2 separate regions of the Homo sapiens genome follow, and region 2 is linked to region 1. Evidence: fine-mapped expression QTL. A gene starts in region 1. The other region holds a variant in brackets. All regions are shown on one strand. Distances are between the middles of the regions.

The links. PIP is the estimated chance that this variant, and not a neighbour inherited with it, causes the effect.
Region 2: its variant is fine-mapped to the expression of RASSF3 in T cells (TOPMed, PIP 0.95).

The regions. Positions count from the first base shown.
Region 1 is chr12:64,603,799-64,619,351 of GRCh38, reverse strand. It overlaps RASSF3 (Ras association domain family member 3), which reads right to left and starts at 8,857. Exons shown (of 5, transcript NM_178169.4): 1 at 8,609-8,857. The coding sequence starts at 8,719. RASSF3-DT (RASSF3 divergent transcript) reads left to right here and starts at 9,886. Exons shown (of 2, transcript NR_187549.1): 1 at 9,886-10,007. RefSeq lists silencers at 8,328-8,397, 8,608-9,127, 9,288-9,357 and enhancers at 9,988-10,047, 10,268-10,317.
Region 2 is chr12:64,689,512-64,705,064 of GRCh38, reverse strand. RASSF3 (Ras association domain family member 3) reads right to left here. Exons shown (of 5, transcript NM_178169.4): 4 at 13,486-13,595; 5 at 7,501-10,302. The coding sequence ends at 10,153. Among named protein-coding and RNA genes, the nearest start is that of GNS, 62 kb to the left of the region's middle. RefSeq lists a silencer at 10,582-10,876. The variant A/G (reference allele first, on the strand shown) is at 9,560.

The sequences.
Region 1 (15,553 bases):
TGGCTCATGTGGAAAAAAAAAAGGGAAGTTCCCCACACAAAAGTTTCACAACCCCAAAATGCTGGTATGTGTGTCCCTGGATAGGCTGAGAAGAAACTATCCCCAACAGTAAAGGGCAAGTTCCCCTTCACAAAGAAAAATCTTCCCAACACACCAGGCTGGTACCCCCACATCCATCCATCTGCAGCCACCAAGACAATGGAGATTCAAACCTCTGGCAAGGGCTGCCAGCCCTGCTTCAGCAAACAGCATTGTTCAACAAAAATATCATGCGAGCCACATGCATAATTTTAAGTTTTCCATAGCCATGCTAAAAAATAAGTAACATTAAATTTACTTAACTCAAATATTATCGAATATTATCATTTCAACATGTAATTGCAATTTTTTAATTATCATATTTTACATTCTTTCTTTTTTTTTATTATTATACTTTAAGTTTTAGGGTACATTTCTAATCTTCAAAATCCAGTGTGTATTTTTCACAGCAATCTCAATCAGACTAGCCACGTTTCGATTGCTTAAAAACTACATGTAGCTAGTGACTACTGTATTGTACAGCACAGTTTTAGAATGGTCACTTCTATCTCAGAATATATTTTCTGATTTGTTACTTAAGTTTTTACATATATTTCAAATACTCATCATTTTTTATGGGTTCTGACATCCTTCCTAGAGCATTATCTGGCCCTCTCCATTTAAAAAAAACAAAAACAAAAACAAAAGGCCGGGCGTGGTGGCTCACGCCTGTAATCCCAGCACTTTGGGAGGCCAAGGAGGGCAGATCATGAGGTCAGGAGTTTGAGACCAGTCTGGCCAACATGGTATAACCCCGTCTCTACTTTAAAAATACAAAAATTAGCCGGGGATGGTGGCATGCCCCTGTAATCCCAGCTACTTGGGAGGCTGAGGCAGGAGAATTGCTTGAACCCAGGAGGTGGAGGTTGCAGTGAGCCGAGATCACGCCACTGCACTCCAGCCTGGGCAACAGATCAAGACTTGTCTCAAAAAAAATAAAAATAAAATTAAGCAAACAAAAGCTATTTGACAACACTACTGATAGCCAAACCAGAACTACCTGTTTAAACTATTAAGAAAAACCTGGAATACTCAGGAGGCTAAGGCAGGAGGATCATGTGGGCCCAGGAGTTCGAGGCTATAGGGCACTATTATCATGCCTGTGAATAACAATTGCATTTTAGCTTGGGCAACATAGCAAGATCCCATCTCTTTAAAAATGAAAAAAGAAAAGAAAAAAGAGACCTGGAAAATAAACCAAATTTGATTTGGTTAATTTTGGTTAACATTTTGGTGAATTAACCAGTTTGGTTAACGCTGGTTGAAGTTATTTAAAAAACATTTTCTAACCTTGAAGATGATTACGTTTCTGTTGGAAGACAGTCATCAATAAGGAAATGTGATTGTTTTACACAGGGACGTAAAACAGGAAGTGATACACTTCCACGTCAACATTCCCATCTAAACAGATGTATAGGGCCGGGCACGGTAGCTCATTCCTGTAATCCCAGCACTTTGGGAGGCCGAGGCGGGCAGATCACAAGGTCAGGAGTTCAAGACCAGCCTGGCCAATATGGTGAAACCCCATCCCTACTAAAAATATAAAAAATTAGCCCCATGTGGTGGCACGCACCTGTAATCCCAGCTACTGGGGAGGCTGAGGCAGGGGAATTGCTTGAACCCAGGAGGCAGAGGTTGCGGTGAGTGGAGATCGCATCATTGTACTCCAGCCTGGGTGACAGAGCAAGACTCCGTCTCAACCAATCAATCAATCAATGTATAGCTTTACCACACTACAAAATAGGTGTGTTCCTGAAAAACTACATTTCAAAGTTTCCTCAAATACACTAAAGGAGCAAGCTCTTTAGGGAAAAATTAGAGAGATATTTTCATTTGCCTATTGGGTAAGCTTTTTAAAAACATTGCCAAAAGAGGCCAGGGACTGTGTATTGTTCACCACCCTAACCCCAGAGGTTAGAACAGTATCTGGCACATAGGAGGCACACAATAAATTGTCAACTAAATATATTAATGAATAAATGATGAGTTTTCTTAAAACAAGGGGAAAGTATATAAAGTGAGTTATGCTTAACCAGTAATCACAGATATTACCAATATCATCCCATTTTAAATCACTACTACCTGTAAGATACTGTGAAGGCTTATGGTCTAGTTTGGAAAGGGGGAGACATTGTGTACATTTGTGTATAAAGGAAAACTAACAGTACCAAATACTGGGACATCCATCCAAAATGAGCAGGCTTTCATTTGTTCAAGCACCTTAAGTGCCAAGCATTTATATTATGTAGTAGGTAAAAAATGCTAGTCTCTGTCCTCATTAAACAAAATATAATGATAAATTATAATTTTTGCTATGAAGGGAAAGAACAGCGGGCTTTAAGACTTTTCTGAGTCGACATGTTAAGGAGAATGGAGGGCGGCAACTCCAGGCCATGGTTCTGAGATGGCGATGGGGCCTGAAAGGAATTAAAGAGAAGGCTAATATTGTTGGAGTCCTAAAAGCTCTTACATCACAGGGTGAACAATAAGCGGGGCCTTGTAATAGAGGTAATGCCTGCTTGCCATGAGAATAAAAACTTCCTACAAGGCAAATGTGTGTAGCTCTTCAAACAGAGGAAGATGCAAAGAGGCTAAGTTAGCCAAGACTTGTCATATAGAAGAGAAGCTCCTTTGCATGCATTTATCATATATCCTACTGTCTTTTCACCATCCCCTCTGAAGAGGGACTGCTAGCCAATGGCCTTTGGCCAAATTAGGAGTGAAATACACGTTTCAAACTGGGGCCTTTATTGAAAGACAGCTACTTATGCTTGGAGACTTGGGGGTGGAAAATGCGAGGGCTAATGCCCAGGGCTAAGAGTTGGTGATCAGGCCACACTAGAAAGTATTTGGTCAGACTCAGTTTTTTTTTCTCCCAGAAAAAGAATGTTAACCGTATGACATGCACTGACTGCCAAAGGAAGTCTAAAAAGAATAACCACATTATTGGATATTTTTAGCCTTTCTTTTCAAAAATGTTTTGTGTCACTGCTTTCCAAATAATTCCAAATCTTGTGAGTTGGCCAGAAGAAGAAATGGGATAAGGAGTATACTACTCAAATATGAGGCTTTATAGGACTGGAAACTTTTTCTTCTGAAATTCATTTAAAGGAATATGCCTTTGTGAATCTTGCTCACACAAACACAAAATTCCAATGGATTAATATCGTGTAAGAACAGAACATATCAGACATGCAGAAAAGATGTGTAAATCACCTTGCCCTAGGCAAAATGTCTGGTGAAAATGTTTATGCCCCATAATACGGGAATTAAAAATCAGCATTTAAAAAGCTAGTATAGGCCAGGAGTGGTGGCTCACACCTGTAATCCTAGCACTGTGGGAGGCCGAGGTGGGTGGATCACCTGAGGTCAGGAGTTTGAGACCAGTTTGCCCAACATGGTGAAAGCCCGTCTCTACTAAAAATACAAAAAATTAGCCAGGCACTGTGGCGGGAGCCTGTAATCCCAGCTACTCGGGAGGCTGAGGCAGGAGAATCATTTGAACCCAGGAGGCAGATGTTGCAGAGCCGAGATCACACCACTGCACTCCAGCCTGGGTGACAAAAGCGAAACTCCGTCTCAAAAAAAAAAAAAGAAAAAGGCTAGTAGAGTCAAAATACCTATTATGTCATAAACCACTATTCTTTTACCCCAGTGATCTAGCTCTAAACTTCTAATGGAAACACTAATAAAAGAGTGCAGCTCATTACTGTTGATTCTAGCAATAAGACACAACCAAATAATTGAGGCACAAAAATATTTGAATAAGAAAGAGAAAACCGAAAGGGTGAAGTTGAGGCCTGCTATGGGGAGTCTAATAGACTTACTTACTGAAGTAAAATTCTTCAGCGCAATTTTTTTTAAAGTGTGGGTTGTTCAGAAGACAATTTCACGTTTCTCAAGACTTCTTGACTACCCTACTTCTAAAGCAAAAATACTGTCTCATTTCCTTATTCCCATGAACTACCAAAGGCTCAGGAGGAGAGGTAGCTTAGCTAAGAGGTAAGACACACTCTGACAGATTATAACTTTAGACCATTTCTATTCTTTGGAAATCTGAATGTGTCCTGTATTTACAGGTAGTTTGATTTTGGTGGGAAATCAAGAAGGCAAATAATAAATTACACAACTGTCCACATTTTTGGTTTTGCTGAAAACAATGATTAGGTGGATCCTTTGAAACACAGCGAATCCACAAATACGTGAATCCACAAATACAAATTATAAACACTGTCATGACTATATGCAGGTCAGGGAGTTGAAATTTTAAGAAACAGCCAGGCGCGGTGGCTCATGCCTATAATCCCAGCACTTTGGGAGGCCAAGGAGGGCAGATCACTTAAGGTCAGAAGTTCAAGACCAGCCTGGCCAACATGGCAAAACCCCATCTAGACTAAAATACAAAAAAAAAAGCCAGGCCTGGCAGCGGGTGCCTGTAATCCCAACTACTCAGGAGGCTGAGGTATGAGAATCAATTGATCCTGGGAGATGGAGGTTGCAGTGAGCCAAGATCCTGCCACTGCACTCCAGTCTGGGTGACACAGTAAGAATCTATCTCAAAAAAAAAAAAAAAAGAAAAGAAAAGAAATTTTAAGAAACTCTTAAATTTTAGGTGTCCTTATTTGCAAAGGGAATATGGAGCCATAAAATTATTTTTATAGCTAAAAAGTAACAAAATAGAGAGTGTAATTTGAGTCTGAAAACCTGAGTTCCAGCCTTCTTGCTATCTAGGTGTGGGCCTTATACAATCACTAAATAATACCTCCCCCTTTCATTAAGTTAATGTTTCATACAGTTTTTGGGAGCACCATAAGATACAGTACATTTGAAAATGGTAAAGATCAGGGGCCAGGTGCGGTGGCTCACGCCTGTAATCCCAGCACTTTGGGAGGCCGAGGCGGGCAGATCACCTGAGGTCAGGAATTCAAGACCAGCCTGGCCAACATGGTGAGACCCCGTCTCTACTACAAAATTTAGCTGGATATGGTGGCAGGTGCCTGTGATCCCAGCTACTCGGGAGGCTGAGGCAGGAGAATCGTTTGCACGCGGGAGACGGAGGTTGCAGTGAGCCGAGATCACGCCATTGCACTCCAGCCTGGGCAACAAGAGTGAAACTCCATCTCAAAAAAAAAAAAAAAAAGAAATGGTAAAGACCCAGTTACTATCAAATCAGGAAAACATTCATTCATTCAGCTTGCATTCACTGAGCAACTACTGTATATCAGGTACTGATCGAGACCCTGCGGATACAATAAACATGACATTCAAACTGCCACAAAACGTCATATGTTCGTTCCCTTTATATCTTTTAGACAGTTTTGTTTTTGAGACAGGGTCTCGCTCTGTTGCCCAGGCTGGAGTGCAGTGGTGCGATCACAGCTCACTGCAACCTCTGCCTCCCGGCCTTAAGCAATGCTCCCACCTCAGTCTCCCGAGTAGCTGGGACTACAGGCGAGCACCACCATGCCTGACTAATTTTTGCATTTTTTTTGTAGAGACAGGGTTTCACCATGTTGTCCAGGCTGGTCTCAAACTCCTGGGCTCAAGCAATCCTCCCATCTCAGCCTCCCAAAGTGCTGGAATTACAGGCATGAGCTACCACACGTGGCCTAGACAGGTTTTTTAACCCTTTTCCATTTTTGTTGTTGTTCTTGTTGTTAAGAATGGGGTTTAAAGTAAGAAAAAAAATGAAAACATTTTCTTTATAAGGTTTTTGTTACTGTTGGGGATAGAAAGAAGTTGCACTATGTTCCCTTGCCTGGCAAGAGAAGAAAGAAATTTCCAGTCCACCCGCTCCCTCACCCCTTTCTCCCCATTCTGCATTTACCACAAACATCTTGTTTTCTCCGGATATTTTCAAGAAATCTAGAAACCTCATTTTTCTCACTTTTCCACCAGGTGGTACAGCATCCAAAAAAAAAAAAAATCACTGTATCTCTAATAGATCCTTCTAGCAATACCTCTCTTTCCATCTCTCTAGAGAAAGGATAAATTTCACTACTATGATGTATGTCAGAAGTGCTTATCTTATTCTTATAATCATCAGCATGAAAATGAAGAAAAAGGCTTATCTAACGTTAGATAAAAGGAACATTCTACATTAAGAGTGTTTTGCTTTATATTTATGATGTTTTACTTCCCTAATTCACCAATCTTACCAGGAATTTAAAACATTCATATCACTTCTTTAAATAAACCACAATGCTCACTAAAATTCGTAGTTTAGAACACTTTCTCTGCCTGGCAAATAACTTCTACAACTCAGCACCTTACATGTGTTATGTTAGAAGGGAAAAATATGCAGGCAATAAAGCTTCAAATACACATATGAAGCTCTTCAACCACGAACTATGTCTTCCTGTCCTGATTTCCAACACGATATTTCAAAATACATATTAATGTTAGACTAATTCTAAATGCTAAATAATACTACCCTGAGTATAATATATATGCTAGATGATACATAAATGATTGCATACAACATAGAAACAATAAATGTGCCGGGGGCGGTGGCTCACATCTGTAATCCCTGCACTTTGGGAGGCCAAGGCGGGCAGATTACCTGAGGCCAGGAGTTCGAGACCAGCCTGGCCAACATGGTTAAATCCCATCTCTACTAAAAATACAAAAATGAGCCAGATGTGGTGGTGCATGCCTGTAATCTCAGCTACTCGGGAAGCTGAGGCAAGGGAATCGCTTGAACCAGGGAAGCTGAGGTTGCAGTGAGATCACACGACTGCACTCCAGCCTGGGTAACACAGTGAGACTCCATCTCAAAAAAAAAAAAAAAAAAAGAAACGCTAAATGCATATAAACCTAGAAAAAAACTGATGTCTTTACTCTTTAAAGCACTAAAGGATTCTCATACAATTCAAACCTGAATAGTTTGGCCCTTGTGGCATCTCACCCCTGGAGAATCCAAGAACCAGCCAGTTTTCAGGAGATTAGCAGACACCTCTGGAATAAACTTCAAACTACCATGAGTTCCTTTTCATGTCAAGTGGTGAAAGCAACATAAATGAAAGGAGAAAATGCAAAACGGAGAAGGGGAAGAGAGAGGCCAAGAAAGAGAAAGCAAAAATGGAAAAAGCATAAGCAAATGCAATTTTTCTACAACCCAGGGAGGGTGGGCATGGGGGAGGAGAGGGCGTTTCCAACTTCCAAACTTCACAGCAATCTCATGCTCTCAGAACACACTCTGCTGAAAGTAAGAGATCCCACTCAAAGTGACTCGTAAATAGTGGGGCCTTAAGCCTTAGAAACAATACAAGACGGACAACTATGGCACCGGGACTTGAGATTAACTGCGGTTACTGAATAAGGGCACTTGACTTCAGCTTACCCTTCACCGTCTCCTCTCCTCCTCCTGGTTTGGGACTTAAGAGCCTGAAAAGACTAGAACTTCCGAATTTTAGAAAGAATTTTACTTCAGAAAGTGGCTAAACTTAAGAGGTCTGGCAAGACCACCCTGACAGATTGCACCCTCCCACATCCACCAAAAGAAGTTATCATCCGGCCCCTGAACGATTCTTCTTGCTTCTAGTCTCTAGGTCTCAGTCCGGTATTAATAGAAATGTTTGGCGAACGCCTGTTTTCTAAAAGCAACAAATTTGTGCCATTACAATCTTCTGTAATCTGATGTGAGCGTGGCCGGGTTGGCCCGGCTCCCCTGGTGCGGCTCCTAGTGCCAGGAGGCCGCGGGCTCTAGCACCGGGCTCCTCAGTCCAGCCGACGTGCCCCGTTTCGGGAAGGCCTCCCAAAAAACACGGCTACAGCTGGCGAAACTGGCACAAGTTCCCTTCCCATCTTTTCCCAACTCGTGCTTCCCACGGCATGCTGCCTCCAAAAAAGGAAGAAACCGGCGAAAAGGTTAGCTGTCGCTGGCTAGTATTTAGCATAGGAGCTTGTTTGCAAAACATCTGGGCACCAAAAAACCTAGCTTTACAGAAAACGCACAACCCTGAGTCCCGCAACGGAGATTTAGTGAGAGCCTATGGTGGCGAGGCCCACGGTGCCCTTGGACCCCCACTCCACCAGGTCGCCCGGGCCAGGAAGAGGGGAGGTCAGGTCACCCGGCCACCCCTAGCTATTACACGTTGACCCAAGCCACTCTGGGGGCCACAGATGAGTAAGCTGACTAACAGGAAGGACAGGCGCGCGAACCCGACCGTCGACCCAGCGGGGACGCGAAGGGGAAACCTGGGGGAGTGGCCCGGGGACGCCTGCTGGCTCCGGGGCTGCTCCCCGCAGGCGGCAGCCCGAGGCGGAGCTGCAGAGGCCATCTGGCGCGGAAGGCAGAAGCCGGCCCTCAGCCTCCCCGCCCTTCCTCCGCCTTCCCTCGCCTACACGCACAAGCTCCAGGCACGTTCCCGGGACCCGAAAAGGCAGAAGCCACTTCTCGGCCCGCTCCTCCTTCCCGGCGAGCATCCCCCGAGCGCCCCGCAGAGACACGTGGAGGCAGGGGGCGCGGGCTGGCGGGTTCCCCGGAACTCTGGGGCGCGGGCTGCAGCGCCCGCCGCGCGCCACTCACTTGTTGGCCGGAGCGGGGCTTGCCCTGGGGCGCTCTCCTGAAGAAGGAGGTCCTGGCGGTGAAGAAGAAGTCCTCGGCGTCCTCCTCCAGGCTGCTGTAGCCGCTGCTCATGCTGCCGGTCCCGTCGCGCGCGGGCGGCCTCCCCGGGGCGCAGGCGGCCAGGGAGGGGGTGCGGCGCCCGCCAGCCCCGCGAGGTTCCCGGCGCGCAGCCCCGGGCAGTCCTTATGCAGCTGCGGCCGCCGCTCAATCAGGCTCTCCCGGCCCCTCCTGCCGCCTCCCCGCCAGGCTCCAGGCGCGGCTCGGCCCCGGTGCGCCCGCGACCCCGCCTCCCTGGGCCCCGCCCCGGACGGGCGACCGGCCGAGCCCCACCCCGCGCGGCCGCGACCCTCCCCGCCCGCCCGCAGGTGGGGGGAGCCCGGCCCGCCCCTTCCAGGCGCGCGGGTTTCTCCCGACAGCGTCGCGGAACCCGGAAAGCCGGGCGCTAGGGCTGCGTCTGCTGGGGCTGTGCTCGGGTCGCTTCCTCAACCTCCCGGAAACTGCAAATTCCTCTGCGAGCCGTCCGCCCGCCCCCAGCCTCGCTGGCTCGAGTTTCGGAGAGGGCGGGAGCAGAGCGGGGAACTTTCTCTGCGTCCACTCCCTGCTCGCCCCCGCACCAGGGTCCTGTAGGGGTGGGTGGGGGTTGCCCGGCCGAGGGACCCCCCAGGTCCCACGGCTTCCTGCAGCCGCAACGCCCAGTCCTGAACCCCAGCAGCTCGCCCCTCCAGGAGGATTTCAAGTTGGCAGAGATGGGTGGGGAGGTCAAAAACTGGGTTGAGTTTATTCGAATGAAAACATCCTTTCTGGTCATTCATTTGAGCTTCGGTCTTACCCTTTTCCCCTTCTTTCTAGCGAGGGCTCACTTCCAAATAAGATCGTTATCTTAGGCGCACTCAGTGCAACTGAAAGGTGAACTAGTTCTATAGTTACAGAACAATCGAGTGCTTATCAATTAAATGTGCTTTGTAAATGTCCCCGCCACAATCAGCCTTCCACGGTCACCCACAAGGCATGGTTTAAGTGGTGGGGATAAGGAGATCAGGGAATTCCATCCATCCACGTACAAAAAAAGTTTCCATGTTTTCTAAAACTCTTCAGTCAGCTAATCCTCTTAAAGCCACCAGTGGGTAACAGTCTTTTACACCTTGGTGTTACTGCACTGATTTAAATAATACTAATTTCAAGATCTTGACTGAAAGGTTTTTTTGAAGCTGCAAGCCCTGCTATAGTTAGCGAGCTTCAGAAGAGGTTTCATTAGGAGGGGAAGAGAGACGTTAGAAAAGAGAAAATGTCCATCCATCATAGCCAAACTAGCCAAACTCTCTTACATTATCTCCTTCAATCCTCCGAGCAACTCTGCAAGGTACGTAGTGCTATTTTATGCCGGTTTTACACCTAGAGCAGCAGCTGAGGCTTAAAGAAAGGAAAGTGGCTGTAGGAGGCAGTACTCGGACCGTTCTGCTTTGCGTTCTGTTGATCTGAACGTGGTCACATACCCTACTGGGTTCTCTGCTTGGTATCGGTCAGCCGTGCTCTTTTGTGGACTACAGGAGGAAGAGTTGGACCCGAAATGACGGGAAGGAGAGAAGAATTGACTCATGAGTCATCCTACTGTCCCTAGGCTGAAAGAAGGCTTGCAAACCTGCTCCACCTTCGGGCTTACACATCCATCTTGTAAACTAGTATATATTACCCCACGTGATTCACAACAACTCCAGAAGGAGGGCCTTTGAGTTACAGCCCATTTTAAAGGTCCTACAACATTAAAGTCTTCTTCTCGGCCACACAGCTACTGAATGATAGGAAGCCAGGAATTCTAACTCCATATAGTTTCACCCAGCTTAAGCTGATCCGTGTGTGTGCCATGCACATAATCTAATGTAGGAGAATAGGGCTTTATGACAAATTTTTCTTATTTGGTTTCTCTTATTTCATTATTCAGATATAATATTAGCGCAGCTCTTATTAAATATTCCAAGGTAAGAATAATGTGTAGGTTAAGGGCTTAAATTACTCATTTTATTGTGGGTAGAAAGGGGAAAATAATTTTACCTAGAACAAGTTGAAGTTTATGAATACTTTGAGGAAAAATGCATTAAAATGCTTTATTGGCCGGGCGCGATGGCTCACGCCTGAGGAGGCAGAGGCGGGTGGATCACTTGAGGTCAGGAGTTGGAAACCAGCCTGGCCAACGTGGTGAAACCCCGCCTCTACTAAAACTACAAAAATTAGTTGGGCGTGGTAGCGTGCGCCAGCTACTCGGGAGGCTGAGGCAGGAGAATCGCTTGAACCCGGAGTGGCCTAGGTTGCAGTGACCCGAGGTGGCGCCATTGCACTCCAGTCTGGGCGACAAGAGCAAAACTTCGTCTCAATAAATAAATAAATAAACTTTATGATGCACCACACCATAAAAATGATTTTTTTCATTGTATTATTTTTAAGCTCCAAAGGACTGGATTAATTTGTATATCTGTCAGCATACCATCAGAATCAGTTATAATAAAAAGGCATGATTGAGTGGGGCACAGGGGGAAGCTGAGGTGGAGGATCACTTGAACTCAGGAGTTCCTATCCAGCCTGACCAACATAGTGAGACCTTTTCTCTAAAAAAAAATGATTTTTTTATAAAGGCATGATTAGGCCAGGCATGGTGGTTTACGCCTGTAATCCCAGCACTTTGGAAGGCCGAGGTGGGAGGATTGCTTGAAGCCAGGAGTTCAAGACCAGCCTGGGCAACAAAATGAGACCCTGTCTCTACAAAAACAAAAACAAAAAACAAAAAAAAATTAGCCAATGTGGTGTCACATGCTAGTGGTCCCAGCTACTCAGGAGGCTAGGTGGAAGGATCACTTGAGCCCAGAAGTTTGAGGCTGTAATGAACTATGATCTTACCACTGCACTCTAGCCTGGGTAACAGAGTAAGAGTCTGTCTCTTAAAAAAATAAATAAATAAAATAATTTTAAAAGCCATGATCAAATAATGAAATGGAAGCACTGCTTTTAAGCAACAAAAAAAACATAAATAAAGGAAAGGGCCGAGTGAGGTGGCTCACGCCTGTAATGCCAGCATTTTGGGAGGCTGAGGCCGGCAGATCACTTGAGGTCAGGAGTTCAAGACCAGCCTGACCAACATGGTGAAACCCCCATCTCTACTGAAAATATATAAAAAAATTAGCTGGGCATGATGGCACATGCCTGTTGTCCCAGCTATTCGGGAGGCTGAGGCAGGAGAGTCACCTGAGCCCTGGAGGCAGAGGTTGCAGTGAGCCAAGATCACGCCACTGCACTCTATCCTGGGCGACACAGGGAGACTCTGCCTCAGAAAATAAATAAATAAATAAATAAATAAAGGAAGGAAGAATTGTGATTTTGTTTCCTAAAAGCAGCATAATGATATTTGCATATTTTTCTGGTAGCTTTTTTTTTTTTTGAGACAGGGCCTCACTTTGTTGCTGGAGTGCAGTGGTGCCATGTTGGCTCACTGCAGCCTCGACTTCCCAAGCTCAAGCAATCCTCCCACCTCAGCCTCCCGAGTAGCTGGGACTACAGGCATATGCCACCAGGCCTGGCTAATTTTTATATTTTTTTTGTAGAGACAAGATCTCACTATGTTGCCCAGGCTGGTCTTGATGAACTCTTAGGCTCAAGTGATCCTCCCACCTCGGCCTCCAAAAAGGCTGGGATTACAGGTGTGAGCCACCATGCCTAGCCTGGTAGCATTTTTAATTAAAATATTGTGAATTTAAAATTTAGCTCATGAAAATTGTATCTGTAAAAATTCAAAATGTCATGTTAAGCAACTAGACACTTTTAACATTTCAAATTCAGGGAAGGGGGTGGAATAAATAAAATTAAATGTATGCAACCAAGTTCAAGTTTTGTTTTGTTTTTTTGAGACGCAGTCTCACTCTGTCACCCAGGCTGGAGTGCAGTGCTATGATCTCAGCTCACTGCAACCTCTGCCTCCCGGGTTCAAGCGATCCTCCCGCCTCAGCCTCCCGAGTAGCTAGGATTACAGGCACGCACCGCCTCACCCGGCCAATTTTTGTATTTTTAGTAGAGACAGGGTTTCACCATGTTGGCCAGGCTGGTCTCAAACTCCTGACCTCAGGTGATCTGCCTGCCTTGGCTATCACTGACTCTTATGTGACCTTTAACAATTTAATTAACTTCTCTATGCCTCAGGTTCATCAGCAGCAAAATGGGGATGACAATGTCTTCATTTTATTTTCTTTGGTTTACTGTAAGGATTAAGTGAAAGAATCCAGGCAAAGTCCTTGGCATAGAATAGGATCAAGCAAATATTCATCTTTCTTGCCCCAAATATTAGACCTTATTGCATACTTAACATTCATCACTCACTTCTTTCTTGTTAACTAAACAAGGACTTTAATTCAAGAATCCCCTCGGGAAAAGAAGTCCAATCTCAGCTCACAGGGGTAAGGCCTGACGTGCAGAGTCAGTCGTAGTGGTCCCATTCCCCTTGCCAGGGATTGCTTTAGGCATGGACAGGTCTCACAGACCTGACCACTGAGACCAGAAGGAAACCTGGCTTGGTGCCTTTTAGGAAGATGTTCCTCACTTTTAAAAGAAACCTACAAAAAAAGACTATGTCTTCTTCCTCTGGATCTTGCATGCTTGCATATGGTACCTAGGAATTCTGTAGCCATATTGTGGACAAAATAGACACCATGGCAAAGCAGAACAATACAAAGACTTCATAGCTCTTTGATTAACCAGGTTTGACACCACCCTAATTAGGACTTCTTGTTATGTGACATAAGATATTATCTCGCTGCTTTTTTTTTTTTTTTTTTTTTGAGACGGAGTTTCGCTCTTTTTACCAGGCTGGAGTGCAATGGTGCAATCTCGGCTCACCGCAACCTCCACCTCCCGGGTTCAAGCGATTCTCCTGCCTCAGCCTCCCGAGTAGCTAGGATTACAGGCATGCGCCACTACCCTGGCTAATTTTGTATTTTTAGTAGAGATGGGGTTTCTCCATCTTGGTCAGGCTGGTCTTGAACTCCCAACCTCAGTTGATCCACCTGCCTCAGCCTCCCAAAGTGCTGGAATTACAGGCGTGAGCCACCACGCCCGGCCTAGATACTGCCTTGTTTAAGCCAGTTGAGTTGACCTGTTATCATCCTATATTCCCATCATTTTGTTCCTGCTGGAATAGTCATATCTCTCATAATATTTCTGCCACGTTCTGTTCTCCTCCATTGACATTGGTAGAATCAGTAGAGACAGATAGAAAAAGAAGTAAGAGTTTTTAAATGATTGCTAAGTTGTTCCCCTGAAGATAATTTAGAAAGTTCATTTTCTTACCTTAAAAAAAAAAGCAACCCATAGCAGAGGTATTTAAATTGGCTTTAAAAAGGAAAAAAAATATGTTCTAAAATTTCTCTCAAAAATTCTGACAGGCTGGGTGTGGTGGCTCACACCTGTAATCCCAGCACTTTGGGAGGCTGAGGCAGGCAGATCACCTGAGGTCAGGAGTTCAAGACCAGCCCGGCCAACATGGTGATACCCCATCTCTACTAAAAAAAATACAAAAATTAGCTGAATGTGGTGGGTGCCTGCAATCCCAGCTACTCAGGAGGCTGAGGCAGAAGAATCACTTGAACCAGGGAGGTGGAGGTTGCAGTGAGCCGAGATGGCACCACTGTACTACAGCCTGGGCAACAGAGCAAGGCTCTGCCTAAAAAAAAAATAAAAATAAAATAAAATAAATTAAAAAAAAAATATATGACAAACTCAAAGATGATAGGAGTTGGTTACATGGCCGGGCACGGTGGCTCACGCCTGTAATCCCGGCACTTTGGGAGGCCGAGGCGGGCGGATCACAAGGTCAGGAGATCGAGACCACGGTGAAACCCCGTCTGTACTAAAAATACAAAAAATTAGCTGGGCACGGTGGCGGGCGCCTGTAGTCCCAGCTACTCGGGAGGCTGAGGCAGGAGAATGACGTGAACCCGGGAGGCGGAGCTTGCAGTGAGCCGAGATCGCGCCACTGCACTCCAGCCTGGGCGACACAGCAAGACTCCATCTCAAAAGAAAAAAAAAAAAAGAGTTGGTTACATCAGCCTGGTAGCTGGAGGACAGGCTCTTAATAGTTGAACCGATACAATCAGCGGCTGTTCTCTTTGGTCAGTGCCTATTGGCTGCAACTATCACCCTGGTTGCTTCCATTTTGTTCATGGCAATGACAGGAATAAATGGTATAATAACTGAAAGGCAATGTGTTTGGTTGTTAAGTATGTGGGGTGAGAAATCAGCCTGGGCTGGGCACAGTGGCTCACACCTGTAATCCTACCATTTGGAGAGGCTGAGGCAGGCAGATAGCTTGAACGCAGGAGTTGGAGACCAGCCTGGACAACATCACGAAACCCTGTCTCTACAAAAGATACAAAAATTAGCCGGGCATGGTGGTGTATGCCTGTAGTCCCAGCTACTCAAGAGGCTGAGGTGGGAGGATTGCTTGAGCCTGGGAGGTCAAGGCTACAGTGAGCCATGATCAGGCCACTGCACTCCAGCCTGGGCAACGGAGTCAAACCCTGTCTAAAAAAAAAAAAAAAGAAAACCTGTAATCCGAGCACTTTGGGAGGCTGAGGTGGGCAGATCATGAGGTCAGGAGATCGAGACCATCCTGGCCCACATGGTGAAACCCCATCTCTACTAAAAATACAAAAATGAGCTGGGCGTGGTGGCGTATGCCTATAGTCCCAGCTACTCAGGAGGCTGAGGCAGGAGAATCGCTTGAACCCAGGAGGCAGACATTGCAGTGAGCCAAGATCGTGCCACTGCACTCCAGCCTGGCGACAGAGCAAGACTCCATCTCAAAAAAGAAAAAGAAAAAAAAAAGGAAATCAGACTGCCTGTGTTCAAATGTGGGCTCAGATGGTGTGA
Region 2 (15,553 bases), 86 kb before region 1:
CTTTGCTTATAATATTATAGGTTGGTACAAAAGTAATTGAGGTTTTTGCCATGGGGAGGCGGCGAACCGGCAAGAGTAATCCCGATAAAACACACTGTCAAAAAGAAAGACCTCAGACACCAGTCCCCACCATGCAGAACATGTTCATGTAAGTTATTCTTCTAGGTAACCCCTCCTCCTCCTCCTCAAGATCTCAGCTCTAAATCACTTTCTCAAGGACGCCTTCTCTGTCCTCCTGTTATACACTCATAGTACACTGAATTTTATCTCTATGACACTTAACAGTTTACACTACACATGGACTCTGATTTTCATAACAGAGTTCATGATGTTCTCACTCATCATAATCTACCCAGTTCTAGGGGGTGGGTCATGGGACCAGGCAGTGCGGACTTGAAAAATAAAAAATAAAAACAGGCCAGGTGTGGTGGCTCATGCCTGTAATCCCAGTACTTTGGGAGGCCGAGGTGGGCAGATCACCTGAGGTCGGGAGTTCGAGATCAGCCTGACCAACATGGAGAAACCCCCGTCTCTACTAAAAATACAAAATTAGCCAGGCGTGGTGATGTATGCCTGTAATCCCAGCTACTTGGGAGGCTGAGACAGGAGAATCACTTGAAAGCAGGAGGCGGAGGTTGCAGTGAGCCGAGATGGTGCCATTGCACTCCAGCCTGGGCAAAAAGAGCGAAACTCCATCTCAATTAAAAAATAAATAGGCCGGGATGGTGCCTCACACCTGTAATCCCAGCATTTTGGGAGGCCGAGGCGGGCAGATCACAAGGTCAGGAGATCGAGACCATCCTAGCTAACATAGTGAAACCCTGTCTCTACTAAAAAAATACAAAAAAATTAGCTGGGCGTGGTGGCGGGCGCCTGTAGTCCCAGCTACTCAGGAGGCTGAGGCAGGAGAATGGCATAAACCCAGGAGGCAGAGCTTGCAGTGAGCCAAGATTGTGTCACTGCACTCCAGCCTGGGCGACAGAGCAAGACTCCATCTCAAAAAAAAAAAAAAAAAAGAGTACAGATATCACAGGATACAAGGACATTAAATAAGATAGAAAGGAGGGAGGGAAAGAGGGAAAGAAGAGACCACATGTAGACCCGACTGTGTTTCCAATAATGTGGAAGCTTAAATGTTAGGTTAGAATATTATAGATCATATGCATTAAAGCTTCATACTGCAGACACTTGTAAACAGTAAATTCCTGAAAGACCTATGAAGTTGGTTGCAGCAGCAATATCAGCACTTGTCATTTGGCAAGCTTCTTTGAAGCTAGCCAATAGATAATAGAGGTCACTATATACATACATATATATATGTATGTATACATACATATATATATGTATGTATACATACATATATATATGTATGTATACATACATATATATATATATGTAGAGAGAGAGAACAGAATAAGAGTAACAAGAGTAATTTTTTTTTTTTTTTTTTTTTTGAGAGGGAGTCCCACTCTGTCACCCAGGCTGGAGTACAGTGACAAAATCTCGGCTCACTGCAACCTCTGCCTCCTAGGTTCAAGAGATTCTCCTGTCTCAGTCTCCCAAGTAGCTGGCCACAAGTTTCGCTATGGCCGGCACGGTGGCTCATGCATGTAATCCCAGCACTTTGGGAGGCCGAGGCGAGCAGATCACCTGAGGCCAGGAGTTTGAGACCAGGCTGGCCAACATGGCGAAACGCCATCCCTACTAAAAAAAAAAAAAAAATCTGCCAGGTGTGGTGGTGGGCACCTGTAATCTCAGCTAATTGGGAGGGTAAGGCCCAAGAATCACTTGAACCCGGGAGGTGGAGGCTGCAGTGAGCCAAGATCATGCCACTGCACACCAGCCTGGGCAACAGAGCGAGACTCTGTCTCTAAATAAATAAATAAATAAATAAATAAATAAATAAATAAAATTTTGAGAAAATCTAGTTGATCAATGGCCTTTCAACAGAGGTCTAAGATCCAATTAGCCATGGTCCAGGGGAACAGGGTATATAGAATTGTCCTTTCCAGGGCTAAGTGAGGCAGGTCAGAAAGCCTCTTTGCAGGCTAGTCATTACTCTCAATTTGGAAGTAATTTATTTAAAATTTCAAAACAAGGGGTATGAGGGAAATACTCTGTGCACAATGATGTATCCCTTCAGCCCCAGAAACCCTCTGTAGAGCTCTAGGATTTGCAGTCAGCATTTGAAAAAATAGGGGGCACTTATTAAAATGGCAGATTCTCAGGGGCCAGTACCAGAGATTCAGATTAAGTAGCTTCAGAGTCAATGAACAGAAAAATCTGCCTTTAAAAAATCAGCCTGGGCAGTGGCTTACACCTATAATCCTAGTGTCTTGAGAGGTCAAGACAGAAAGATCATGAGGCCAGGATTTCGAGACCAGCCTGGGCAACATAGCCAGACCTCATCTCTACAAAAAAATTAAAAAATTTGCTGGGCATGGTGGCATGCCCCTCTAGTCCCAGCTACTTGGGAGGCTGAGGTGGGATGATTGCTTGAGCCTAGAAACTAGAGGCTTCAGTGAGCTATGATCATGCTACTGTGTAACAGAGCAAGACCTACCTCGAAAAAACAAAATTCAGCACCTTCCACAGTTCCGAAGGCAGTCTGTGAAGAAATAGTGTGGTAACCTCATTTTGTCTTGAAATATCTTCCGAAAGATCCTAAACGTTGCCTTTTCCTAACTACCACCTTCATAACAAATAACTTTCCATGATAAAGGGGACATTATTTCTGGCCTCCCCAACACCACTACACCCTTAAAGCCCACTTCCTTCCCCAGCACACACAAACTCCTATACAAACTGTATCTAGATAAAGGCGATAGAACTGGAAGTTTTCTGATGGCTGGGCACAGTGGCTCACCTCTGTAATCGCAGCACTTTGGGAGGCCGAGGCGGGTGGATCACCTGAAGTTAGCAGTTCAAGACCAGCCTGGCCAACATGGTGAAACCCTGTCTCTACTAAAAATACAAAAATTAGCTGGGCGTGGTGGTGGGTGCCTGTAATCCCAGCTACTTGGGAGGTTGAGTCAGGAGAATCGCTTGAACTTGGGAGGCGCAGGCTGCAGTGAGCCAAGACCGAGCCACTGCACTCCAGCCTGGGCGCAAGAGTGAGACTCTGTCTCAGAAAAAAAAAAAAAAAGAACTGGAAGTTTTCTGAAAGCTGGTCTTTTTGTTCCTCAGTTTCTATGGTTGGCCTTACCTGCTCAGTCAAGCATCTTTTATTAATAAGGCCTCGAAATACTCAATCTGACCTAAACAAAATTGACTATGAATGTTTTCCTTGCAAAGATCACATATGCAAGAAAAATGTTTGAAATGTTCACCATCTTTAAAAGAATCTGAAGACACCATTTATAGTTCTGAGTAAAAGGTTTGAATTTAAGCTGTTGCCTCCCTGCCTGCAACAGCAGTAATTCAAGAATTCTAAGTTTTGGCAAGGCACTAAAGTTTGCTGCTTCAGAATTTTTAGAATTTAAACAAATTTTATTGCACCTGTAAATGGAAAAACCCTGTAGAGCAGAGCCTCCCTAGAAAGCCACTTCAGAGACAGGAACCACAGAGGGCTTAATGAATCCCACGTGTCCACAAAGCGTGGCTCAACAGCCGGCAGTACATATGCCAGCAAACACAAACCAGATAGATGCCCTTAATGACCCAGGCCCATTGTAATCGGAACTCCTCGTTTAGAAAGAGAAAAAAATGAACTCTCCTGATTGAAATAACTCCCTCCCCAAAACAAAGTCAAATCCCAATTTCTTTTGAGGTTTACAAAGAGCCCTGATGTTTTGTTGTTTGTGCGTAAATAATACTTAAAGGTGCTCACATTTCTCAGAAACAAGAAGAAGAGAGGAGCTTTCAGAGTTCACTTGATGCCAAATGCAGCCTCAGCCAGACACGTGAGAACCACAATCATCCTTTGGAAACACTATTTAAGATCAAAGGGGTCTATCCTGTACCCTGCTATTCTCATCTCCTGGAATAGGGAAAGACTTGTCAAAAAACAAAACAAAATGAAACCAAAACCAACAGGCAAAAAAACCCCAAAAGACAAAAAACAAAAACCCAAACCCAGATCCAAGCCTGAAGATGGAATAAATGATTTAGCTTCAGAGTTGTTGGTATATAACCCAGCTAGTCCCCACTCCCTCCTATTCCAGCCTTCACCACACCTGCCCCCCCACCTTTATCCTTATATAAAACTTCTTTCTTGAACATTCAATTAAGCAAGTAGTGATTCACACCACACAAGCATATGCTTTAGACTTTGAATACTTACCTCCTAGTTTCTCTCTGCAGAGGATGAGCCTTGTTTGGGGGAATGGTTCCATGAGTCAAACCTTTGCACAAGTTTTGTGGCTCCTATAGCACTCTGTAGTACTGAAGCTGTTCTTCTGGTGGTTCCAGGAGAATTGTCTTACCAACTACAGTGAGACCACTAAGTTTGGTTACCTGCCGTGTTATTTCCCCCATGCAACAGAACCTCTAAATGAAAATACAGGTCTGGGCTGGGCATGGTGGTTGTAATCCCAGCCCTTTAGGAGGCCAAAGCAGGAGGATCACTTAAGCCCAGGAGTTTGAGACCAGCGTGGGTAATATAGCCTGACTCCATCTTTACAAAAATGAAAAAAAATTAGCTGGATGTGGTGGCAGGCACCTGTTGTCCCAGCTACTTGAGAGGCTGAGATGGGAGGATCTCTTAAGCCCAGGAGGTTAAGGCTGCAGTGAGCCGTAATCACGCCACTACATTCCAGCCTGGATGACAAGGTGAAACCCCATCCGAAAAAATAAAAAGAAAGCACAGGTCAGCATTTCATTCTATGTGACTTAGTATAATCACCTGAATGAAATGATAAATGAACCAAAATGGATGAGAACACACTGATATCAACAAACCCCAATGGCACCAAAACAGTTACGCTTCTGGGCAAACTGTCCATTACGGCAATTTAACAGACTTTTGCTCCTTTACTCAATAGGCAATTTAACTGAGAAACTAGAGAGCACTTACAGGAAAAGATGGTAGAGAAACGGGGCAGTGTCCGGCTCTGCCACTCACTCACACAGTGGCCTTGAGCAAGCTGCTAAACCTCAACATGTCCATTTCCACATTTGTGAAAAAAGGGATATGACGAAATAGTGTGATAACGTCACAGGAGAGTCAATGAGTTGATACATATTAAGCATTTCAGAAGAATGCCTAGCACATGGTAAGCACTTTGTTGGCATTGGCTACTATAGTGTAGACCTTCACCACCACCCTTTTTTTTTTTTTTTTTTTTTTTGAGATAGAGTCTTGCTCTGTTGCCCAGGCTGGAGTACAGTGGCGCAATCATGGCTCACTGCAGTACTCACGGCTCACTGGAGTACAGTGGCGCAATCACGGGGCTTGAACCCCGCCTCCCGGGTTCAAGCAATTCTCCTGCCTCAGCCTCTTGAGTAGCTGAGACAGCAGTCGTGTGCCACCACGCCTGGCTAATTTTTATATTTTTAGCAGAGAAGAGGTTTTGCCATGTTGGCCAACCTGGTCTTGAACTCCTGGCCTCAAGAGATCAGCCCGCCTTGGCCTCCCAGAGTGCTGGGATTACAGGCATGAGCCACTGTGCCTGGCCCCTTTTCTTTTTTTTTTTTTTTGAGACGGAGTTTCACTTTGTCGCCCAGGCTAAGTGCAATGGGGCGATCTCGGCTCACTGCAACCTCCGCCTCCCTGGCTCAAGCAATTCTCCTGCCTCAGCCTCCTGAGTAGCTGGGATTACAGGTGTGCGCCACCACGCCCAGCTAATTTTTGTATTTTTAGTAGAAACGGGGTTTCACCATGTTTGGTCAGGCTGGTCTCAAACTCCTGACCTCATGATCTGCCCACCTCGGCCTCCCAAAATGCTGGGATTACAGGCATGAGCCACCGCGCCCAGCCCCCTTCTTTCAATAAAACAAAATACCTAATTAGCGTTATCTGACAGTGTCTCCGAATTTGTCACCAACTGATAACTGTTGTTTCAATAAATATTCATGTGAGCCAGGCACGGTGGCTCACACCTGTAATCCCAGCACTCTGGGAGGCCAAGGCCGGCAGATTACCTGAGGTCAGGAGTTTGAGACCACCTTGGCCAACAGGGTGAAACCCCGTCTTTACTAAAAATACAAAAATTAGCCAGGTGTGGTGGCACACGCCTGTAATCCCATCTACTCCAGAGGCTGAGGCAGGACAATTGCTTGAACCTAGGAGGTAGAGGTTGCAGTGAGCCCAGATCGTGCCACTGCACTCCAGCCTGGGAGACAGAGTGAAACTCTATCTCAAAAAAAAAGGTTTTTTTTTAGTAATAAAAATTGACTTAAAAAAAAAAGTCCTACCTGTAATCCCAGCACTTTGGGAGGCTGAGGTGTGTTGGTCACTTGAGGTCAGGAGTTTGAGACCAGCCTAGCCAACGTGGAGAAACCCCGTCGCTACTAAAAATACAAAAAAAAAAATTAGTCGGGTATGGTGGCAGGCACCTGTAATCCCAGCTACTAGGGAGGCTGAGGCAGGAGAATCGCTTGAACCTGGGAGGTGGAGGTTACAGTGAGCCAAGATCATGCCACTGCACTCTAGCCTGGGTGGCACATTGAGACTCCATCTCCAAAAAAAATAAAGGATAAAAATATAAAAATTCCCAAACATTCTCCACGCACCTTGGGTAGTAACCCAAGTAGAACCCCCAAACCTGATTCCTCTGAATATTTCAGTAGAAAAGCAAAATTATACAGAGCCATAATTTTCTATCACAGTATTTTTATTTAGGGAGCAGCTATGGTACGTGAAAGGCCTCTACCACCTGGTGCCAGCCTTGCTCCTTTCATCAGCCCCTCCAGGGGGCAGTGTAGTAGTAAAAACACTCCCAACAGCAGGCATGGAAGCTGAAACCATGGCACAAAGCCGAGGTGCAGGTGCGCAGAGGGTGGCACTCCATCGTCCCTGTGGTTCCCCAGACACTATCCATCCCATCTGTGTAAGGCAGTCATGGTGACCAAAAAAATACAAATACTCACTTTATGTTGAAGTGGTATGTTTCAGGGGTAGGAGACCTCAGGGCAAGAACAGGGGTGGAGGGAGAGATTTCTAAAGAACTGACAAGGTTCTATTTTAGTAATGGTCAGGGGGTGTCCATTTTATATAATAATCCTTTAAACTGTTCGCATGCTTTTTTATTTTTATTTTTTCACTCTCGGCCTCCCTCCTCTTTTGCATGCTTTATATACTTTTAAATGTGTATATTTCAAAAATTAAAACAATTGTTTTAAATACATTGGAATATGCTGTGTGAGCTTAGGGTTATTTTTCCTCAGAGGATAAGGCAAAGAGAAAATGATATCTGGGAGAACAAATATGACCCACGCGAACCTAGTAAAGTTGTTGCATTCCAGCATGTGTCCCTGTGTATATGTGCAAAAGCAGCTCAGCGCACTCCTGTGACCTTTTTAAATCTAGCATATTATCATAAATAAACACACATAAACAACTAATAACTTCAATTTTTAATAATGGAAACAATTTTGCCATTCTAGAAACTATTTTAGGGGAGAAAAATCTTCCCTACAAAAATAAACTTAAACCCATCAAAATTATAAATATTATAACTTTTTACTTCTGCCATTTAAAATGCTCTCCTGCAATACCACCCCTTCATTTAACATCCTTCCTGTACCATCACATATTGAAGAGAAAACAGTATTACAGCAAAGCTTAGATAGTTTAACATAATGATTTGTACAATGATTCTTAAAAAATCTTTGGCCTTAGTGGCCTTTTTTCTTCACTTACACATTAAAAATGCTGCTGCAGTAACCAGTGTTTGGGAAAGGACATCAGTCTTCAAGAACCATAAACTGACAGAATTTCAATACAGTAGGTTTCCAAATTGCAATTTGTAGTGCACATGACAGTAAGCGAGGTTTTGGGTAAATATAGATGAGGATGCCTATTCAGACAATCTACTTCAAGTAAAAAAAAAAAAAAAAAAAAAATTCACAGATACCCATCAGCTACTACTTTAGGTTCTAACAGTGTCTTAATCTGAGAAACAAATGCTTCACAAAATATAAGTTTACTGGGATGAATAATTAAAAAACCAGGTGGTAATAACAATATACTCAAATCCAGGCCATAGTCTGAATAATAAAACCAGTACAAAAAATCACGAAGGCATTCCCTGAACAATAAAGGTAAAGTGTTGGATGACAATGTCACTAAAACCTCATCAATGTACAAAAGAGAAGTTACATGCAAAATTAAACAAGATGTGCCATACATATTTTATAGCTAATTCTATTTTTTTCAACTTTCCTTAAATGCTTAGGAAGATATGATTGTCTCAGTAAATTGTGTGGCACAGCATAACAACTTAAGTCTGCCTCCAACAAGATGGGTATTCTCCAAAAAGTCAGAAGAGCCACCAAGAGACGAACAGAAATGCAATAAAAGGCACAGTTCACTTGGGCAAAGAACTGAAGCACCTTGGAATTTCAAAAAGAATCCATTAGGTGTCACCAAAGTGTTAACAATTCCTTGGGAATTTATAAACAAAAAATATCTAGACTAAAAATAGAATATAAGGCCCCTCTGGAACCACTGCACACCTTTCCCTCTGTTCTCAGATTAAACTGCTGCATAAAATGAGGTTATTTAGCCTGTTTTTAAGGAAGGCTTCTATTGCACATGCATCTCTTTGGTTGGTAATAACATGTACTTTTGTTAAAATATTTCCATAATGAAGCCCTGTTGTGTGGTTAGCTGGGTGTGGACTTTCCTCCCTTTCTTGGGGGCCCTCCTACTCACAGTCAAGTTGCCCTTTAGAACTAAAGATCTGGTAGGATTGGGTCTTTATTCAATAGCCCTGTTCTCTATTATGTAAGAACAGATTTCAATGTAGAAAAGAAAGGGAGAGGGAGAGAGAGGGAGGGAAGGAGGGAGGGAGGGAGGGAGGGAGGGAGGGAGGGAGGAAAAGAACAAGGTAGGGTGGGAGACAGCAGGGAAGGAAAGAAAAAAGGGAAGAAAGGAAAAGGAAAGGAGGAATAAAAGGGAAGAGAGTGATTGTCACCAAAGTTTACTTGACAAATATCCTAGCTAACAATCAAGGGAAAAACAGCTGCCCCTACCCAAATTCCGTCTCAACTTTGAAAACCACCTGTGGGGGGAAAGCTATACACTATGTAACTTAACAAGAGTTAGTGAACTGTCACTGTCCTGCCTATGCAGAGCAGCTACACCAATCAGACCTTCCACTCCAAAAGGGCAGAATTAAAGGGTCGGATCCAGCTGCGTGAGGCCCACCTCTGCCCAGGTCAGTAGGCTACACCTGCCTGATTCTCTGATTGGTCAGCTGCAGAGTTCATGGGTCCCTCCTTTTGGTTTAGCTCCTGCCTCTGGCTCTGTTCCCATATTCTACCCACCAGGAAACCAAGCGATCCTAAAATGGGTTTAACACCTCCACACTGAATGCTTTTAACTCGTTTACAAGCAACTACCCCTTTCTCCACTACCCCTAACTGAAAAGCCAAGTCACCTTCCATAGCCCGCAGC[A/G]CTCGCCACCACCGCACATGCCTTCTTCCAAACTTACACTTTGCTTTCTCTGTCAACCCCCTAACAAAATCCTTCACAATAAATTCCTCAGAGTTCCTAGATTCCTGTGCCTTTCGATTCACATGGATAGATTCCTCTGACATTAAAAAAAGAAAACAAAACCAAACAAAAAACCAGACAGGTAGTTTCAAAATAGGACAAGTATTCAGAAAGATTCCTAGTTAAGCTTTTTAAAAAATCAACTGCATATCTGTAAGCTTAACAGCATCATCACATAATTAAAATAACCAAAAAAAAAAACACCCCCAGAGTTCATGCTTCCAAGCACCCTCGAATGCTCCTGATGAGGCGACAGGTTCACAGCTTGCCAAGAGGTAACACTGCGGTGCTGAACAACAAGCTTGCAGAGTCCCTTACATGGGACGCTAAGGTGCAGGATGCTGTGTGACCAGGTTTGGGGAACAAAATCTACAGATAGAAAGGCGAAGACCCTAGCATAGTGGGGCAAGACAGCAGCCCTCTGAGAAGAGAGGCACTTGCTGCTGTTTTGTACATCGGTCCTGCACCGGGCCTCACGGGCAGGGAGCCCCGCTTTAATCAGGCTTCCACACCTCACGGAGGGCTTCTTCCAGCTTCTGCCTGTAGGCTGTGTAGCGCCTCTTCAGGTTCTGCAGCTGTTCATCTTCTTCCTTGTCCAAGATGCGCAAGAAATTCTGTAGTTCTGGAAGGCTGAAGGCTTCCCACTGTCAGGAAACACAGAAAGAAAAATGCCAGATGTTTAATACTCAGTTAGACTTAGGAATGCTGACCAGGAGCTCCCAGAGGTGCGGCTGCCCTCCCCTCCCAGCCCCATGCCGCAGAAGGTGTGGTCTGCAAGAGCTGGGGTGTTGCCAGCCTAAGGGCTCCCTCCACTCCCACTCCCACCTCAGCTCACACCAATCACCTTCCTACCCTCTCCTCCCACTGTTCAAGACGATCTCCCTAAAAGCCAGAGACCTCCATATCCCTAAGTCTATTGGACACTTTCATTCCTTACCTGATTTGACCCCCAACAGCATTAAAAACAATTCGACAGTCCTTTCATCTTAACCTCGAGTCCTCATTGTAACTGACTTTCTTACCTCGCATAATCAGTCTTATCACCCCCAAACAGTTCTCCATTCAGCCTTTTCTCCCTCGGTACGGCCCCTTGGTGCTAGCTACTATCATCTATTCCTGCATCGCTGGAACAGCTTCCTACCTGGCCTCCTCACTCGGCTCTTATGCTCCCCCATCTGTTCCCCAAACAGAACATCCTTTGTAAAATGCTCATCTGGCCAAGACTCTCCCCTGCTTAGAACCATCCAATGGCTTCCCTTAGTTGCTGATGCTGTCTGAAAGACTCTAAACTCTCCGGCCCCATCTCTCTCTCACCGAGCTTCACTCTCTGCCCAAGTGGCACGCATTCTCCCCTCCTCCACTTTGCCTGGCTATGAACTACTCATCCTCCCCATCTCAGCTTAAATGCCACTTTCTCTAAGCAGCTTTCCACAACTTCCTCTCCTCTCTTCCCACCCAAGGCTAAGTGTATCAAAAGCCTTCACAGAGCCCCTGATCACAACCAAGATTTTTAAATTACAATTATTTGCTTAATATCTATCTCACCTGCACCTTACCTACACCACAGCTGCCGTACTTCTCGCTATTTGGAGTTTATCTCTTGCCTTGAGGCTCTGAGCCTTGTTTCCCTAACAGCTCCTAGTACTTATTTAGCAGGCACAAAATAAGTTTTTAGGCTGGGCATTGTGGCTCATGCCTATAATCCTAGCACTTTGGAATGCTTAGGCAGGAGGATCATTTGAGCCCAGAAGTTCAAGACCAGAAGTTCGAGACCAGCCTGGGCAAAATAGTGACACCAGGTCGCTACAAAAAATTTAAAAATTATCTGGCTGTGGCAGTACATTCCTGTAGTCCCAGTTACTTGGGAGGCTGAGGTAGGAGGATTGCTTGAGCCCGGGAGATTGAGGCTGCAGTGAGCCATGATTGCGCCACTGTACTCCAGCCTGGGTGACAGTGCAAGACCTAGTCTCTTTAAAAAGAAAAAAAAAAAAATTAAAACAGATTTTAAAAAATAGAAGCAGTGAATGTCAAGGAGGGTATCTAGCATCATCTACGAGGTTTTTTCCAAACACATCCTCCTCTCCCAAAGGGGGCCCTGGATCCTGGTGGAGAACTGCTGTCTGATGGTGTAGAGAAAAGATTCAAGATAACCAAATACAAACAAAGAGTGAAAAATAAGTAAATCCACCAAATGGGCTCAGTGGTAGAAGAATTCCTGGAGAACAGTTTAGGCTGGTTATTTAAAAAAAAAAAAAAAAAAAAGAGCAACATGGAGTAGGAGAGCAAAACTTCTACGTTAGAATATTCTGTTAATTTTTAAAATTTTAACAGATTATCTTTCACCTATGTTGAAGTCTCCAAAATAAAGACATCATATAAATATCCCTCCCACCCCCTAACAGCTATGGAAATTTCTTCCTCAGTTCAGTTTTCCTTAAATAACTGAGAAATAAGAACACCATACAGAGGTCCAGTACAGCAGTCTGGAACAATAAAACCCAATGTCAAGTCAATTTCAAAACTAAGTTAAGGCCAGGTGCAGTGGCTCATGCCTGTAATCCCAGCACTTTGGGAGGCTGAGGTGGGAGGATTGCTTGAGCCCAGGAGTTTGAGACCAGCTTGGGCAACGTAGTGAGACCCTATCTCTAATTATAATTAAAATACAATAAAATAACCAAGTTAATAAAATTCTTGCCCAATGTAGTTCTAGTTGCTACTTAAAACACTAAGTACAAGAAAAATAAAACACTGAGTAGACTATGCTAATGTGTCTGGCTTAAGCTGGCAGAGGGAATGGTCACCATCTGCAAAGCCAAGTCAGATTTCTGCACCCTGCCTTCTCCCCAAAATGAGTCTGAATGTCTTGAAAAGCTTCAAAACACCAGAATCAAAAGAAACTTCAAAAACATGTAAAACCACTGTCTTCCTAAAACTCCCTTCACTTACATGTATACATTTCTAATTGTGACTCAAAGCCCACCTTGTAAAGTGTTTAGTCCCACTTAACAGATTTTAAAACTGAGGGCTAAAAGATTAGAAGACTTATCCAAGGTCATGCTACTAATCTAACAAACAGTAGGAAACAGAGCCGTTTCCTAACTTTTAACCTAGAAACCCTATTCTCAATTGCACCATGTAGGACATTTCACACCATTTCCTGTTCCAGACAGAAGACTGGGACAGGAGCTTGGGATTTGCTCAAGTGTCATTTAAAGCTGACACTTGATCTAGAGGGCAGGCTCAAGTGCTTTTTTTCTTCTACTGAACTGGCTAAATACAATCCTCCCTGGAGACAACATGGCAAATGATGCACATGGAAACATAATTTCTTAATCAGTTGACTGGGCAAGGGGGAAAAAAAAGATGCTAGAAAGCTAAATGCCTTCCATGGTAAAGAGATCGAATTTCCTTTTATATCCCTTTAGAAGGGAATTAGCCTGGAGACTTTTGTTAGTAGCAAACACATGGTGAGTGTCAACTTTCAAAGTTCAGCTGGACTGGAGTATTTTGGAGGTGGGAAGGGGTGAAAATGACTCTCTGGATGGAGATCAAGTAAAAAAACTTTATTTTCTCCCACCTCTGAAAATGACAGACTAATAATATAAGGTTGTGAGAGAATGACATCATAGGCTAACTTTGGGTTCATTTCTGACAATTCAAAATCCCTCTCCCTCTCCCTGCCCTCCAACTCTCTTCTCTTCCCATCCCCCTGCCCTCCAACTCTCTTCTCTTCCCATCCCCCATCAATAGCCAAGTCACTAGGCTACTGCAATAAAATAGGGCCAGCTGTTCTGTATAGTTTAAAGCAATAGTGAACAATAACTTACCTCTCCAATTTCATGTTCACGAAGAACAAAACTAAGTGTGTCTGTTCTGGGCCCTGCTACCAAACGCAGGTAGAGTGGATGTTCCCGGTCTGAGAGCTTGCAGGCGTAGACTGGGTAAAGAAACAAGCAGCATGTTACAGAGTATTCAGCCATTCCTGAGACCACTTCCCCATTGTGATCCCCTCCTCCAGATCAAGGTAACCATCCAAGTTACCCCAGCCTCTAAGTCGCCAGTCGGCTCATCTTATTATTTAATACCAGTAGCCCACAGTGGAATAAAATCTATTCTGTTTCTGTTCAAATATAAACTGTGCCTTGATTAAGAAGGAAATTATTTTCAAGAATAAATTTTAATAGATATTAGTCCCAAAATATGCTTATAGTTAGCTCTGCTCTTCCTTTTAGAAAACAAGGTAAGAGCCAGGCATGGTGGCTCATGCCTGTAATCCCAATACTTTGGGAGGCCGAGGTGGGCGGGTCACCTGAGGCCAGCAGTTTGAGACCAGCCTGGCCAACATGGCAAAACCCTGTCTCTACTAAAAATACAAAAAATCAGCCGGGCGTGGTGGCGGGCACCTGTAATCCCAGCTACTTGGGAGGCCGAGGCAGGAGAATCACTCAAACCTGGGAGGTGGAGGTTGGAGTGAGCCGAGATCGTGCCATTGCGCTCCTGCCTGGGCAACAAGAGTGAAACTCTGTCTCAAAAAATAAATAAAATTTTTTTTAAATGAAAAAAAAAAGGCAAGATAAGAAACCTAAAAAAGGGTCCACTACTCCTTTAAAAACAATAAAAATAGGCCAGGCATAGTGGCTCGCACCTGTAATCCCAACACTTAAAGGCTGAGGCAGGAGGATCACTTGAGGCCTGGAGTTCGAGACCAGCCAGGGCAACATAGCAGGACCCTGGTCTCCAAAAAAAAAAAATTTTTTTTTCTAACTAGCCAGGCATAATGGGGCCCGCCTATAGTCCTAGCTACTTAGGAGGCTGAGGCAAGAGCATCACTTGAGCCCAGGAGTTCAAGGTTACAATGAGCTATGATCATGCCATGGTACTCCAGCCTAGGTGACAGAGTAAGACGCTGTCTCAAAAACCAAGGCCAGGCGTGGTGGCTCATACCTGTAATCCCAGCACTTTGGGAGGCCGAGACAGGCAGATTGCCTGGGGTCAGGAGTTTGAGACCAGCCTGGCCACCAACATGGTGAAACTCTGTCTCTACTAAAAATACAAAAGTTAGCTGGGCATGGTGGTGGGCACTTGTAATTGTAGCTACTTGGGAGGCTGAGGCAGGAGAATCACTGGAACCCAGGAGGCGGAGGTTGCAGTGAGCCGAGATTGTGCCACTGCACACCAGCCTGGGCAACAGAGCAAGACTCCGTCTCAAACAAACAAACAAAAAACAAATTTAAAAAAAAATGTATATACCATCCAAAGAACATAAAAACAAGAGTTCTAAAAGCAAATCTCTCTACAGATTAATTAAGAATTAGCGAGGCCAGGCGCGGTGGCTCACACCTGCAATCCCAGCACTTTGGGAGGCTGAGGCGGGCGGATCACAAGGTCAGGAGATCGAGACCATCCTAGCTAACACAGTGAAATCCCGTCTCTACTAAAAACACAAAAAAATTAGCCAGACGTGGTGGCGGGCGCCTGTAAGTCCCAGCTACTCGGGAGGCTGAGGCAGGAGAATGGCGTGAACCCGGGAGGTGGAGCTTGCAGTGAGCCAAGATTGCGCCACTGCACCTCCAGCCTGGGTGACAGAACGAGACTCCGTCTCAAAAAAAAAAAAAGAATTAGCGAATTAGCAGCTACAAACCAAGCAATCAGAATATAAGCTCCGGTAGCTTCAAGCACAGCTATATATGTCTCATGCTAGACACACACATACAGTGACATTGCCAATCATGTTAAAGGATTTGCCAGCCATGGGGGTAATATTTCAACAAGTCACGATTACTTTCAGATTGTACAGCTAAAGTCCAGGTGAGCAGGCAAAGAAACTGGCAGATAAAAATGCCATCGAGCTTCTCTACATTATTGTGGCACTTCCAGATGCACTGCATCGCAGGT